3 separate regions of the Homo sapiens genome follow, and all the other regions are linked to region 1. The links come from fine-mapping of genetic effects on gene expression. A gene starts in region 1. Each other region holds a variant in brackets. All regions are shown on one strand. Distances are between the middles of the regions. Region 1 holds the start of ZFYVE21 (zinc finger FYVE-type containing 21). Region 2 overlaps PPP1R13B (protein phosphatase 1 regulatory subunit 13B). Region 3 overlaps PPP1R13B (protein phosphatase 1 regulatory subunit 13B).

Evidence for each region. PIP is the estimated chance that this variant, and not a neighbour inherited with it, causes the effect. A credible set is the group of variants that fine-mapping cannot tell apart.
Region 2: its variant is the best candidate, but not a certain one, in a credible set for the expression of ZFYVE21 in whole blood (INTERVAL, PIP 0.72).
Region 3: its variant is the best candidate, but not a certain one, in a credible set for the expression of ZFYVE21 in whole blood (INTERVAL, PIP 0.63).

Annotation. Positions count from the first base shown.
Region 1 is chr14:103,713,316-103,719,488 of GRCh38, forward strand. It overlaps ZFYVE21 (zinc finger FYVE-type containing 21), which reads left to right and starts at 2,495. Exons shown (of 7, transcript NM_024071.4): 1 at 2,495-2,664. The coding sequence starts at 2,527. It overlaps XRCC3 (X-ray repair cross complementing 3), which reads right to left and starts at 2,136. Exons shown (of 10, transcript NM_005432.4): 1 at 2,109-2,136. RefSeq lists enhancers at 937-1,622, 4,859-5,369 and silencers at 1,819-2,078, 2,159-2,728, 2,919-2,998, 3,099-3,168, 3,229-3,308.
Region 2 is chr14:103,836,041-103,841,040 of GRCh38, forward strand. The region is part of intron 1 of PPP1R13B (protein phosphatase 1 regulatory subunit 13B); the gene reads right to left. Among named protein-coding and RNA genes, the nearest start is that of PPP1R13B, 9.0 kb to the right of the region's middle. The variant G/A (reference allele first, on the strand shown) is at 2,028.
Region 3 is chr14:103,790,223-103,795,222 of GRCh38, forward strand. All of the region lies in intron 2 of PPP1R13B (protein phosphatase 1 regulatory subunit 13B), which reads right to left. Among named protein-coding and RNA genes, the nearest start is that of PPP1R13B, 55 kb to the right of the region's middle. RefSeq lists enhancers at 4,426-4,927, 4,928-5,000. The variant G/A (reference allele first, on the strand shown) is at 2,002.

The DNA of each region.
Region 1 (6,173 bases):
CACCTGCCGCATCCCAGACACTGGCCTGGGAGCTCCACAGACAGCCCGGCACATGCCTCTGTCCTCTCGCCGCTGTGAGGGGCAGGGGTGTGACCAGCCCATCTCTCTACACCGGGGTGAAGGCCACACACAGGGAGCAGCCCACAGCAGGCAAGGGGCTGGCCCAAGACAGACCTGTATGTCTTCCTGCAGCACCCGAGCTGAGCAATGACTTCAGGGGGAGAGCTGATGTCACGTGCTGCTAGGTGAGTACGGACGGTCACACCAGAGCTGTTAGGCTCACACACCAGACTCTGGAAATGCCGTGGTTACTGCCTGGAGCTGCTCTGAGCCTTCCGAGGTGGACTCACTCCTCTGCCTTGGGCCCTGGGACCTGCTGTGTAGCTTTGAAGTGATTCACAGCACTTACATAGTCTGATGTTTTGGGGTGACCTGACCCCCCTGCAAGAGTGTGATGTCTTATCAGACCACATATGTGAGGACTTGAGTGAACTCCGCAACCTTGGGAATGCCACTTAAACCTTGTCAGACACTCCCTTATGTGAGTTACTGACCCTGACTGCTGGACTGCAAAAACAGACATCAGCTTGAAGGTTGTGCAGATGCTTTGAGGCAAGCTATACGCTGCTGGCCTGGGAGCTGGACCTCGGTCCCAGCTTCTCAGAGAGCTCCCGCTCTCACGCTCTCCACTGCTACCAAGGCAAACCTCGAACTCTCACCAGATCTCACTCTCCAGGGGCCCGCTCCATCCCAGCAGAGCAACCGGACCCTGGCCGTTCTGCCACTCACCTCCCTGCCGTGAATGCACCCCATCCATGGAGGCCCTGCTTCCCTGCCAGGTGTCTTCACCTCCTCCCCTCTCCTCCCCTCTGAGCACTGTGAACCCGAGAACAAATCTTCTTTGACAATAAACCGTGTGATTCGTGGAATCATACTTTGATCATCTCCTTATTTCCTCCACACACAAGGACCCCTGCACTGCCAATGGCCCCAGGAGAGGGCAGAGTCAGCCACAGGGACCCCACCTCACAGGCTTCAACACTGCTGATGCCTGTCATCCCAGCACCGTGGGAGGCCAAGGCGGCCAAGGTCGCCTGAGCCCAGGAGTTCAAGACCAGCCTGGGCAACACAGCAAGACCTACTCTCTACCGAAAAAAAAAAAAAAAAAGAAAAATAGCTGGCCAGTGTAGTGGCGCTTGCGGTCCCAGCTACTTGAGAGCCTGGGAGGTCGAGGTTGTGCCTAGCTGTGAAGACGCCACTGCACTCCACCCCGGATGACAGAGCCAGACTGTCTCAAAAAAAACAATAAAAATTCACGCCTTGTAATAAGGAATTAAAGGCAGGATGAACAAACATTTTCTTCTTTTTTTTGTGTGCTTTCTGAGATGGAGTCTTTTTCTGTAGCCCAGGCTGGAGTGCAGTAATGTGATCTCGGCTCACTGCAACCTCCGCCTCCCGGGTCCTGGTTCAAACAATTCTCCTGCCTCAGCCTCCCAAGCAGCTGGGATTACAGGCACGTGCCACCACACCCAGCTAATTTTTGTATTTTTAGTAGAGACGGGGTTTCACCATGTTGGCCAGGCTGGTCTTGAACTCCTGACCTCGTGATCCGCCCGCCTCGGCCTCCCAAAGTGCTCGGATTACAGGCGTGAGCCACCGCGCCCGGCCTAAAGGATTTTCTTTCCAAATCAAAGTATTAAAATAACTGTTCAGACCTCTCCCACTTCGATGCGAAGCCAGCGCGGTCCCAGGCGGACGAGCGAAGGCATCGAAGGCCGGGGGCGCAGCCGCGGGCCCACCTCGGCCTCCCCTGAGCGGACGCCTCCCCGCGCGCACCGGGGGCCCCGGAGACCGCCTTCCCCGCTCCGAACGCACGCGGCCCGGCCCCGGCGAGGTGCCTGAACGCTACCCGAGCTGCGGCGGGGCTCCCGGGGTGAGTGCTGCAGCCCCAGGCCCGCCTGCTCCCACAGGCTCGGGCAATGGAGACCCGCGGCCGCCCCCGCCCCTTGACCCTGCCTCACCCCTCACGCCCGCTGCCGCCCACGACCTCCGACCCCGCTGCCGCCCGGCTCGCAGCCCGGCTCGCAGCCCGGCTCGGCGGGCCTCACCTCCCGCGGGTTCCGCACTCCTCTTCCCGCCGTCCTGCTCCTCTCGGCCTTCTCCTCCAATAGGCGCCTAGCACCCTGAGTGGGCTACACCAATCAGAGACGAAGCGGCGCTAACGTGACTGACTAACTAACCAATCCAAAGTCTCAATCTCCCTGAGAGGGGCGGAGCGTACCCGGGCCAGCCCTCGCCGCCGATTGGTGATCGACCTCAGGGTTGCAGGGGCGGTGCCCTTACACGGATTGGAGAGGGCAGCGATGGGGCGGAGTTCAAGCTCCGATTAGTCCGCGCTCCGTGGCGGGCTTGGCGATTGGACGCCGGCGCTGTCAGCCGCGCGCGGACCGGGGCGGGGCGGGCGGTGCCCCGGGCTGGGCGAGGGGCCGGGTGCGGGGCCGCTGGCCGAGAGGCTGAGGCGGCGTCATGTCCTCCGAGGTGTCCGCGCGCCGCGACGCCAAGAAGCTGGTGCGCTCCCCGAGCGGCCTGCGCATGGTGCCCGAACACCGCGCCTTCGGAAGCCCGTTCGGCCTGGAGGAGCCGCAGTGGGTCCCGGACAAGGAGGTGGGTGGCCGTCGCCCCGGCCAGCGCCTCCGACCCGCCCCGCCGCCCCGGCCCGGCCCCGCGGGCTTCCAGGCTCCCGCGACGACCCCTCCGCCTCCGGGCGGCCCCTTCCCCAGCCGGCCCCCGCCCCCGCTCTCTCCCAGGTTGGCCGCGTCCCCGGGCCGCCGCCTCAGGCTCCTACGCCCGCGGGGAGGGCGGGAGGCGCGCGGTGTCCCGGTGCGGGGGTCCCGGGAGGGCAGGAGGCACCTGTCCAGGGCGGGCGCCGGGAGGCGGGGTGCGGGGCGCGGGCTGGTCCCGGGGGTGGGTGCGGCCCTGCCCGAGGCCGGTTCGTGCTGGGCTAGCGCGTGTGGACTGCGTCCCGAGAGCTGGGGCTCGCTCCCGAGAAAGTGGAAGGCGGAGCGCCTTCCTCGCAGGCTCGGTGGGGAGGGCGCGTGCTGTCCGCGGAAGCGCTGGAGCTGGCGGCCCCGCAGGGGTCCCTCCCGGGAACCGGGGGAGGCGTCGGTGCCGCGGGCGGGTGGCCGGTTCCGAAGCCACCTCCTGCTCGGAAGGAGGGCCAGGACCCAGTCTGCGGGCCAGGCTGCCCCCCGTTTCCCTTCGTCTATACCACCCTCCACCTCGGAAGCGAGGTCGCAGTCGCCCACTGGACAGTTTGAAGGAGACCGCAGATTTGCACCCGTTTCCCATGGGCCCAGACACGGCAGGAGTTGCCCAGGCCACTCCTGCAGACATTGGGGCGTGGGCGTGGGGTCCCTGAGCCAGGCCATCCGCTGGGCCTCCCGTGGGGTTCCCTGTGACCTGATCGGAGGTGCCTTTGCCTCACACCAGCCCCTTGGCCAACTGGGAAGGCCCCGAGTGCATTTAATCCCACTGGCTGTGCGCTAACAGGTGTGTCCAGTTTCTGTTCTGTGGATTTTACCACGATAAAAAAAAAATTGGGGGAGAAAAAGAATTTTTGTAATATGACTTTCATACTTAACACGTGTTACAGATTCGTTTAATTCCCTCAGTGATAGAACTAAGCAGACGTTGGAACTAGGTTCAAGAAGTCAAAGTAGCACTAATTGACTGGGTTCATTGAAGCTTGGTTGGAGGCCTGGTGGGGGGTGAGCGGCCACAGAGCCTCGGGGACAGGACGGAATTCGAGTGACTCTGGGGAAGTGTCTCTGGCATCTACAGTGTACGGAGCCATCACCGGTCACTGAGCGTGTCCTGGAGAGTTGAGACCAGTGCTGCCCACCTCTCCCCAGTATCGCCACCATGAGGAGTCTTTTTAGACACTTTCCGCCAATCATCCTCCTTCATCTTTTTTAAAATTTACTTTTAAGTTGACACGTGAAAATTGTATTTATGGTGTAACGAACTCTTAATAGCACAGAAATACTCTACGTCTGTATGAACCGTAAGGAGCACGTGAGAAAGTGTGGCCAAGATGAGGCAGAGGTTTCCACCAAAGCACAATTTCTTTCTCCCTGCTGTACACATGCACTGATCTTACGGTTCTGTTTTATAGTGAACCACTGTGTTCCCCTCCTTCATTCTCTCTTCCAGAGCCCTTCTGGTATCAGCTGAATTGTTTAGCATTTTTCCCTGCCTTTCTTTGTGGCCTCTGCTGAGGCACTGTGTGGCAGTCCCGCGGTGACTTCCGACTGAGTGGAGTTGAAACACTTGAGTCAAGGTGGCACCCCTCGTGGAAGAGAAGATTCATTCCCACGCTGGCGTGGTGGCAGGATACCCCTCCAGAGCCCCCCACCATGTTTGGATGATTAACTGGGATCTGAGCAGCTGAGGGAGGTCCTAGCATTGGGTGGGCTTGGGGGACAGAGAAACCATTCTAATAAGATGGACTTTGTCTCTGAGTTTTGCGTTGTGAATTGTATTGGAGCATGGTCTTACAGGCCAGAAACGACCAAAGACAGTGTTCTGGAGGAACTTAGAACGGGGCAGTAAGGGCTGGAAGATTTGGAATAAAGTCCAGCTTTAGGTGCAATAGCTCGAGGGGACATGTACGGTAACAGTCGCCTGGCATGTGGTGATGCTGAAGGGGACACTGAGCTACACTGTGCTGGCTGCGTGCTTGGGGCCGCTAAGGTGATTGTCGGGAGGTGACTCAAATGTGCAGATAACCAGTTGTGGGAAATAGGTTTATTTGAGGTGGTTTGGAATGGGGAGAGGAGAATTTGGTAGAACTTGGCAGGTGGGTAACATTGTCCTTGGCTTGGTGGCCGTGTGCCGATCGGCATCATCGTCATATCTGTAAACGTGTTGGTCCATTTTCATTCCAGCTCTGTTCTTAGCCAGGGGAGTCTGAATCCAGCCCAGTGCCCGTCTCCCGAATACCAGCTGCCTGACCGGGCTGGTTTATCAGTTTGGGCCCATGAGGGTTATCCCTTTAAAATGCTGCAAAACCCCCTGGGGAGCATGTGCACACATGCACCTTTCTCCGAGAGGTGGCCTGCAGCTCTCAGATTCTCAAGGCTCTGACGCAGAACCAGTTGAGAATCGTTTCTCCAGTCTGTGCCTCCTCAGGAACCTGTGGGGCAGGGGAGGCAGAGGCGGCGTGTAAAGCTTCGTGCGACACCACTTTGGATAGAGGTGCTTTGGGGGTGTGAAGGAAGCTTCAGATGATCTCTGGGGCTTGTCTGACTCTGCCATCAAATATCCGACACTGACGCAAGGCAGTGGGCTTGGGGGTGGGCGGTCCGGGCGTGCAGCCATCTGGGCTTGTCACAAGCAGCTGAGATCCTGAGTTTTATCCTTAAAATCCTTGCCGCTGTGCACCCCTCCCACCTCCCATCCGTGGTGCTGGCAGAAGAATGACCGCAGCTCCATGCTGGCGGGTTGACACTTTGATGGATACTCTAGATTCAGAGCCAGGAAGGAGAGAGCACGTGCGCGTCTGATCACGAGCCTGGACTCGGATGAGGAGAGATCTGAAGTGAGGACTGTTGCTAGAGGCGTCTGGAGCTGTGCAGCGGGGAGAACAGGGGACCCTGAGTTCTGCGAGGGTCTCACAGGCCAGGCCGGACAGGGCTTTTCTTTTGCAGGGAGGAGTGGCCAAGGCTAGAAAGAATCAAGCTGGGGAGGTGGGATGGGCCAGTGGAGGGTCAGGACCTCCAGCAGATCAGAGAGCTGAGGCCAGAATACAAAAATTAGCTGGGCGTGGTGATGAGTGCCTGTAATTCCAGCTACTTGGGAGGCTGAGACAGGAGAATCACTTGAACCCAGGAAGTGGAGGTTGCAGTGAGCTGAGATCGTGCAGCTGCACTCCAGCCTGGGCGACCAAGCGAGACTCCGTCTCAAAATAAATAAATAAATAATAAAAATTCAAAAATTAGTCGGGCGTGGTGGTGTGTGCCTGTATCCCAGCTCAGGAGGCTGAGGCAGGAGAATCACTTGAACCGGGAAGAGGAGGTTGCAATGAGCCAAGATTGTGCCACTGCACTTCAGCCTGGGTGACAGAGCAAGACTCTGTCTCAAAAAAAAAAAAAAAAAAGTCCAGGTAAGGGAAT
Region 2 (5,000 bases), 120 kb after region 1:
TACTGACTTTTTTTTTTTTTTTTAAGACACAGTCTCACTTTGTTGCCCAGGCTGGAGTGCAGAGGCACGATCTTAGCTCACTGCAATTTCCGCCTCCCAGGCTCAAGCAATTCTCCTGCCTCACCCTCCCAAATAGCTGAGATTACAGGCGCCCGCCACCACACCTGGCTGATTTTTATATTTTTAGTAGAGATGGGGTTTCACTATGTTGGCGAGGCTGGTCTCGAATTCCTGACCTCAGGTGATCCGCCTGCCTTGGCCTCCCAAAGTGCTGAGATTACAGGCGTGAACCACCATGCCCAGCCCCTAACTACTTATTACATATAGTAACAGACAATGCTCTAAGCACCTGACAATCCTAACAGTATCATGAAATATAGTGTTATTAAACCCATTTTTACAAATAGGAAAATAAGGCACAAAGGGGTTAAACAATTTGTCCAAAGTTGGCTGGACGCTGTGGCTCATGCCTGTAATCCCAGCACTTTGGGAGGGAGAGGCAGGCGGATCATGAGGTCAGGAGTTTGAGACCAGCCTAGCCAACATGGCGAAACCCCATCTCTACTAAAGATAAAAAAAATTAGCTGGGCGTGGTGGCACGCACCTGTAATCTCAGCTACTCGGGAGGCTGAGGCAGGAGAATCACTCAAACCTGGGAGGCGGAGGTTGCAGTGAGCCAAGATAGCGCCATCGCACTCCAGCCTGGGCAACAGAGCAAGAGTCTGTCTCAGAAAAGAAAAAAAAAAAAAAAAAATTGTCCAAAGTCACAGAGTTAGTAAGAGGCAAAGCCAGAATATACAGTCTCGGGTCTGGACTTGCTGATAACCACTATGCTCTACACTTTCACATCTGTATTTCCCATCACAAATACTAGCTCTATCACAAAAATCTCTGTTTATACTTTGGTAATTTGTGATGTTGACTATTATTTACTGATACTATTTTCAAGAATGTCATTGGATAGAAATACAAACATGCAACTGAGTAAAAAGCAGGACACAAGAAATCAACACAGACAGAAATTACACCTCTACAAAAAGTGTACATATAAACTCTGCCAGGTGCCTGGAGCACAAAGATGGACAAAGTGAGTCCAGTCCCTGCCCTGAGAACCTTGGTCCAGTGGGCTCAGGGTGACGCTCATCAGGCAAACCGGAAACACAGGGAGGACGTGTGTGGGTGCTGCAGATGCCCAGGCAGCAATCCAGAACCCACTATGCTAAAGCCACTGAACATAGGCAAAAAGTTTTATTTAACATATCTATTTTACCTTAAGATTTAAGGATAACATCTTTCTGGACATGGCAGGCATCTATCTCAAGCTCCACACAGCCAAAATAAAACTCCTTATTCTCACAACCCTTTAAACTTACTCCTTTCTCAAGCAGTATTTTCTATCTTAAAGGAAAGGCAAGCCTGGCTGCTGAAGCAATAAATCTGTTATCCTCAATTCCAGCTATCTCCCTCCCTCCCTCCTTCCTTCCTCTCTCTCTCTCACACACACTTACATGTGCATGCACGCAAGCACTCACTCCCTCACATGCACACATTCACACGCACACATACACACACTCTCCATCCGATCTATTTACTGCTTTTCAACTGGATCTTTCTCTTCTTCAGGTCCTCAAGTCAGGCCTACAACAATTTGTTTCCTAACTACTCTTCCTGTTTATTTTTAATCTCCCTTACTGCACCAACTATCTCTCTTCCAATAATTCTGGCTCTAGAATTATCTTTCTATCATACAAACCTGACTCTATCACTCCACTTTTTAAAAACATTTGGTGGTTTCTGGCTGGGCATGGCAGCTCACAACTGTAATCCCAGCACTTTGGGAGGCCAAGGCAGACAGATCACCTGAGGTCAGGAGTTCAAGACCAGCCTGGACAACATGGTGAAACCCCATCTCTAATAAAAATACAAAAATTAGCCAGGCATGGTGGCGCACACCTGTAGTCCCAGCTCCTCGGGAGGCTGAGGCAGAAGAATCGCTTGAACCTAGGAGGCGAAGGTTGCAGTGAGCC[G/A]AGATCACACCACTGCACTCCAGCCTGGGCGACAGAGTGAGACTCCATCTCAAAATAAACAAATAAATAAAGTAAATAACAACAATAAAAACATTTGGTGGTTTCTGATCATCTCTACAGGATCAAGTCTAACTCTGTTATGGCACACACACACACACACACACACACACAGACACACACAGCTCTTCACAATGGGGTCCAACAGGACCTTCCACATCATATCTTTCTTCATTCAACAAATATTTATTTAGCACCAACTATGTGTCAATCACTGGGCTAAACGGCAGTGGTATAATGGGAAACAAAAAGAGAGAGCTCCTGCTCTCATGAAGCTCACAGTCTAGGACAAGAAACAGAAATCAACCAGTCACACAAACAAATGTTTAAGATTACAACTAAGACAATTACTGCAAAGAACCTCCAAATAAAATAATCTGAAATTAGACAGTGGCAATAGTTGTCTCGTGCATATACTGAAAACCAATGAACTGTACACATTAAAAGGTGAATTTTATAGCACATGAATTATACCATATCCCCCTCCCCAGAAAAAGACACGGCAGGGTGAGCACCTCTGATGGTGGAGTTGGCTAAGGCAGAGACGGTGAAAACTTTCCAGAGGAAATAACAGAGCTTACAAATAACATATTTACTGAGCATTTACTACATGCCAGGCAACTTTCACCGTACTAATGCATCTGATCCTCCTACCAACAATGTAAAGTTACTATTATGCTCAACTCAGAGGTAAGTGAGGGGTCAAGTAACTTTAAGGTCAGAGAGCCCACAAATGGCAATGCCAGCATCCATATTTAAGCAGAATAAAGTGAGGGTCTGCACTCTTACCTGCTACAGTAAAGTCACCTAGGCAATGACTATTACTCAGAACTACTTACGATGCAATAAACACAGACCACTGTGTTTCATTTCTTTTTCTTTTTTTCTTTGAGACAGAGTCTTGCTTTGTCACCCAGGCTGGAGAGCAGTGGTGCAATCTCGGCTCACCGCAACCTCTGCTCACCGCAATCTCTGCCTCCCAGGTTCAAGCGATTCTCCTGCCTCAGCCTCCCAAGTAGCTGTGATTACAGGCACGTGCCACCACACCCAGCTAATTTTTTGTATTTTTAGTAGAGACGGGATTTCACCGTGTTAGCCAGGATGGTCTTGATCTCCTAACCTTGTGATCTGCCCACCTCAGCCTCCCAAAGTGCTGGGATTACAGGCGTGAGCCACAGCACCCAGCCCACTGTGTTTCATTTCTGATAAAAGAAATCTCTCGCCGGGCACAGTGGCTCACGCCTGTTAACCCCAGCACTTTGGGGGGTTGAGGCAGGCAGATCACCTGACGTTGGGAGTTTGAGACCAGCCTGACCAACATGGAGAAACCCCATCTCCACTAAAAATACAAAATTAGCCGGGCGTGGTGGTGCATGCCTGTAATCCCAGCTACTCGAGAGGCTGAGTCAGAAGAACCCCTTGAACCTGGGAGGTGGAGGTTGTGGTGACCCAAGATCATGCCACTGCACTCCAACCTGGGCAACAAGAGCAAAACTCTGCCTCAAAAAAAAAAAAAAAATCTTTCTATCTCCTTTGTCATTACAATAGCCTCTAAGGCCCTACAAGATCAATCCTACACTACTCTCTCCATCACCTGACTTCACCTCCTCCACTTTCCCCCTTACTCACTCTGCTCCAGCCACACAGGCCTACTTTTGTTTCTCCAGCATGCTGGGCATGCTCCTACCACATGGCGTTTGCATTTTCTTGAGCTATGATAATTACAATCACAACATGTGGCATAAATCATGATTCTGCTAAAACCTCAGTTAACATTTTCTCTAAACACATCAATAATGCCACTAACAAGATCTTGTACTGAACTGTACACTAATATTTCAAATGTCATAAATTTTAATAAAAACTACCTAAATTTTCCAGTTTTATATTGTTCTATATGATATCACCAAAGATTCTTATTTTACAAAATCCAGTAACAGCAGCTTTTGCTTACCAATTAGTCTGAACAACAGTCATATAGCTATCTCTGCAGTGAAATAAAGCAAAGCAATCAAGCCAAGAAAGTGTCACAATAGAATCTGATTACCACCATTCCTCTGTTTAGCCCTAGAACCACAGTTTGTGAAATAACTATGACAACAGCATTTCAAGGCACCAAAATCCCACCACACTTTTGCTGAGAAAGTATTCTCCATCTGTGCAAACACATACAAACGCATGTTGACAACCAGTTATATAACTTCAATACAATAACCCAGTGATATTTTAAGTTCTTATTTTGCTAAAAATCCTAAGAAACTGTTAATCCTAAAACCGTTCAGAGTAGGATGCTGAGAAAGGAATGAAGAAAATACATTTAACACATTTACATTTAAAACTGAGTTGTCCCTAAACTCCAGGTGGAAAAAACTACCTCTTTTTGGCAGGGCGCAGTGGCTCACGCCTGTAATTCCAGCACTTTGGGAGGCCGAGGTGGGCAGATCATTTGAGGTCAGGAGTTTGAGACCAGCTTGGCCAACATGGTGAAACCCTGTCTCTCCTAAAAATACAAAAATATTAGCTGGGTGTGGAAGCACATGCCTGTAAACCCAGCTGCTTTGGAGGATGAGGCAGGAAAATTGCTTGAACCTGGGAGGTGGAGGTTGCAGTAAGCCGAGATGGCACCCCTGCACCCCAGCCTGGGCAACAGAAGGAGACTTCCTCTCAAAAAAAAAAAGAAAGAAAGAAAAGAAAAGAACATTATTGTGTATTTTGAAACAGGAGAGCCACTGAAATGTTCCCAACACATGGAAATGGTAAGTGCTAGAAGCAATGGATATCCCAAATACCCTGACTTGATCATTACACATTCTATGCATGTAACAAAATATCACATATACCTCAGAAACATATATAAACATATTAATTAAAAATTTTTTTTGCCAGCAGCAGTGGCTCACGCCTGTAATCCCAACG
Region 3 (5,000 bases), 76 kb after region 1:
GATACAGAGTGAGACCCTGTCTCAAAAAAAAAAAAAAAGAAATGAAAACATGTCCACACAAACTTTTGTCCATGAATGTTCACAGGAGATTTATTCATAAGAACCAAAAACGTAAACAATCTGCTATGGTCTGAATGTTTGTGTTCCCCTAAAATTCATATGTTGAAACTGAATCCCCAATGTGGTAATATTAGGAGGTGGGGTCTTTGAGAAGCGATTAGGTCATGAGAGCTCTATCTTCATAAATGGGTTTAGTGCCCCTACAAAAGAGGCCCAAGACATGGTGGCCCACGGCTGTAATCCCAGCACTTTGGGAGGCCAAGGCAGGTGGATCGCTTGAGCTCAGGAGTTTGAGGTCAGCCTGGGCAACATGGCAAAACCCCATCTTTACTAAAAGTGCAGAAAACTAGCCTGGGAGGTGGAGGTTGCAGTGAGCCAAGATGGTACCACTGCACTCCAGCCTGCGTGACAGAATGAGACCTTGTCTCAAAAGTAAACAGGCTGAGCGTGGGTGGCTCACGCCTGTGATCCCAGCACTTTGGGAAGCCAAGGCAAGCGGATCACTTGAGGTCAGGAGTTGGAGACCAGCCTGGTAAACATGGCGAAACCTCATCTCTACAAGAAATACACAAAAATTAGCCGGGTGTGATGGCGTGCCTGTAATACAGCTATAAACTTGTGTTTATACTTAAGATTTATAACTCTAAATCTTCAGTGCAACCAAAGAATTTGATGTCAAGACAAGAGATAAAACTTTGTGAGCTACACAATCTAAGCACAGATTCAAGGTATAAGTGATTGTAATTTACTGTTCCATTCCTAGGTAAGTTCTAGATTTGCATAAAGAAAATCCTGCCATTCATAGAAATATAATGCACATTATGCTGCTGACTTTTTTCTTCTTTTTTTTTTTTTAAGAGATGGGGTCTCACTCTGCCACCCAGGCTAAAGTGCAGTGATATGATCATAGCTCACTGTAGCCTTGAACTTCCGGGCTCAAGGGATCCTCCTGCCTCAGCCTACTGTAGCTGGGACTACAGGCGCAAACAATCACGCCTGGCTCTAGCTTTGTCTTATTTAACAAACATCAAAGGCAAAAACAGAAACGGTCTCATCTTAGTTGAAAATGAAATCTGTCTGTGCTTAGCTCAAGTTCATATCAGAACTAAGTATCTGTAGAGCAAAAAACAATGACAAGTTAAACATTAAAGAAGTAAATTTCAGCCGGGAGCAGTGGCTCACGCCTATAATCCCAGCACTTTGGGAGGCCAAGGCGGGCAGATCATGGGGTCAGGAATTCGAGACCAGCCTGGCCAACATGGTGAAATCCCGTCTCTACTAAAAATACAAAACTTAGCCAGGCGTGGTGGCACACGCCTATAATCCCAGCTACTCGGGAGGCTGAGGTGGAGAATAGCTTGAACCCACGAGGTGGAGGTTGTAGTGAGCCGAGATCCTGCCAGGGCACTCCAGCCTGGGACAGAGCAAGACTCCATCTCAAAACAAACAAACAAACAAAATATATATATAGAAGTAAATTTCATTCCATATTTTTAGTTTTGAAAGTAGCATTTTTTTATATACACATATGCCTATAAAAAGATTTTTAAAAGCAAGTGTATTGGCCTTTTCTAACTGCAAGGCCTATATTTAGCTAAATCATGTTTCTCAGTTTTGCATAAAATTGTGTCTTAGGCCACATTTTTATTCACATTGCTTAGGCTTATCATTTAGTAGCTTTATTTTTAGTTGTTTTACTAATCAACATTGTCAGTAAATTTTCATTTTTTTACATTAAAATCAACTTTTAAACTTTTACATTTATTAAAATCAATTTACAACCTATATTTAAATATACCAAGTCTGAACATAACCTAATAAAAATTAAAACCCATTTTGTCTTAAGCCAGTTATTTAACAGAAATTTATTGTTTCCCTCTATTCATCGTGTGTGTGTGTGTGTGTGTGTGTGTGTGTGTATATTTTTTTAAAGACAGGGTC[G/A]CACTCTGTCCTCTGTCACCCAGGCTGGAGCACTGAAGTGCAGTGGTGTGATCAAGCGATCGTCCCACCTCAACCTCTCTAGTAGCTGGGACTACAGGCATGTGCCACCACGCCCAGCTAATTTTTGTATTTTTTGTAGAGATGGGGTTTGGCCACATTGCCAAGGTTGGTCTCGAAGTTCTGGGCTCAAGCAATCTGCCAGCCTTGGCCTCAAGTGCTGGGATTACAGGTGTGAGCTACTGCACCTGGCAAAATTTTGAGAAGATTAATTTCAAGAAAGCTTCGCTATATTTTTTTAAGGAAGTTTAACTGAACATAATTTTCGTTTTAAAGTAGAAAAAACACAACCCGATCAACATGACAAGACCCTGTCTCTACAAAAAATAAATAAATAAAAGGATTGTCTGGGCACTGTGCAGTTTGCCTGTGCTCCCAGCTACTTGTGAGGCTGAGATGGAAGGATCCCTTGAGCCCAGGAGTTTAAGGCTGCAGTGAGCTATGATCATACCACTTCACTCCAACCTGGGCAACTGAGCAAGACTCTGTCTCAAAAAAAAGAAAAAGAGGCTGGGTGCAGTGGCTCATGCCTGTAATCCCAGCACTTTGGGAGGCCGAGGCAGGTGGATCACGAGGTCAGGAGTTCGAGACCAGCCTGGCCAATATGGTGAAACCTCGTCTCTACTAAAAAATGCAAAAAATTAGCCGGGCATGGTGGCGCATGCCTGTAGTCCCAGCTACTCAGGGAGGCTGAGGCAGGAGAATCACTGGAACCTGGGAGGCAGAGGTTGCAGTCAACTGAGAATGCGCCACTGCACTCCAGCTTGGGCGACAGGGCGAGACTCTGTCATAGAAAAGGGGAAGGGAAGGAAGGGGAGGGGAGGGAAGGGGAGGGAAGGCAATGGGAGGGGAGGGGAGGGGAGGGAAAGGAGGGGAAGGGAAGAGAAGGGAGAGAAGGGAAGAAAAGGGAAGAGAAGTGAGGAAAGGAAAGAAAAGGAAAGAAAAGGAAAAAACACTACTGATCTGGTTAGGTTTTATGTCCCCACCCAAATCTCATCTTGAATTGTAATCCCCATAATCCCCACATGTCAAGGGAGAGACCAGATGGAGGTCACTGAATCATGGAGGTGGTTTCTCATGATAGTGAGTGAGTTCTCATGAAAACTGATGGTTTTAGAAGGGGCTCTTCCCCCTTCACTTGACATTTCTCCTTCCTGCCACCTTGTGGAGGAGCTGCCTTGCTTTCCCTTCACCTTCTGTCATGATTGTAAGTTTCCTGAGGCCTCCCCAGCCTTGCAGAACTGTGAGTAAATTAAACCTTTTTCCTTTATAAATCATTCCATCTCTGGCAGTTCTTTATAGCAGTATGAAAATGGACTAACTACCCTATACATATCATGTAATATAAAATATACCTAATTAGCATCTTGTATAATGGAAATCTATTATAAGACTTTTAGGAACTTTAAATAAGGTTAAAAAACCTCAAGTAGGAAACTTAACAAAAGATAAAAATGGAAGGTTTTATCTACCTTACTGACTGCCATTAGAACTGACACCTGTGTGGGGAAGGGAACCACACAGAGTAGCTAATGACCTGGCCAAATTAACAGACTGTTACAGGCTGAACTGTGTCCCCGCTAAATTCATCTGTTGTAGTCCTGACCTCAAGTACCTCGAAATTTAACTGTATTTGGAGACAGGACTTTTAAAGAGGCAAGAAGATAAAATGAAGAGATCAAAGTGGCCCCTAATCCAATATGACTAGTGTCCTTACAAGAGGGGGAGGTTTGTCCACAGACAGGCATGGAGGGAAGAAAAGAAAACCATCTACAAGTCAAAGAGAGAGAGAGTCTTCAGAATAAACCAAGCCTGCTGACACCTTCATCTCAGACTTCTGGCCTCCATCACTGTGAGAAAATAAATTACTGTTGTTTAAGCCACCCAGTCTGTGGCACTTTGTTACGGCAGCCTCAGCAAAATAATGCACAGATCCACAGTGAAACGGCTCTACTGGAAAGCACTGATAATTACTATTGAAGGATTCTATCTACGACATACTGATCATACTAATGTCAGCAGTTATGGGGGCAGTAATTTGTTTTTTGTTTTTTTTTTTTTTTGAGATGAAGTTTCACTCTTGTTGCCCAGGCTGGAGTGCAGTGGCACAATCTCGGCTCACTGCAACCTCCGCCTCCCAGGTTCAAGCGATTCTCCTGCCTCAGCCTCCCGAGTAGCAGGGATTACAGGTGCCCACCACCATGCCCAGCTAATTTTTTGTTTTTTTAGTAGAGACAGGGTTTCACCATGTTGGCCAGGCTGGTCTCAAACTCCTGACCTCAGGTGATCCACCCACCTCGGCCTCCCAAAGTGTTGAGATTACAAGAGTGAGCCACAGTGCCCGGCCAGGTGCAGTAAGTTTTATGTGAGGGTTCTCTGAAACCTAAAAAAAAAAAAATCTCTGTAAGGGTTCCTCTAGGTAAAAGGACTGAGAAAGGCTGTTACAGTGCTTGCCCTCTCCCTTTGATGGCATCCACTGGAAGTTACCTTCTCTTCTTCCTAGATCCAGCTTCGTTGGCCATTTTACTTACTAATCTGTGTTTACTAAGTGCCTTCTATGAACACTAGGCTGGACACTGGGGATATAATGGTGAACAACAGACAAGTTCCCGCCTTCAGGAATTTTAGTCCAACAAGATAGAGATAAAAACTACTACTACATTATGTTTGTTTGTTTTTTTTTGAGACAGTCTCGCTCTGTCGCCCAGGCTGGAGTGCAGTGGCACACTCTTGGCTCACTGCAACCTCCGCCTCCGGGTTTCAAGGGATTCTCCTGCCTCCCAAGAAGCTGGGACTATAGGCGTGTGCCACCATGCCTGGCTAATTTTTGTATTTTTAGTAGAGATGGGGTTTTGACGTGCTGGCCAGGCTGGTCTCCAACTCCTGGCTTCAAGTGATCCACCCGCCTTGGCCTCCTAAAGGGCTGGGATTAGAGGCAAGAG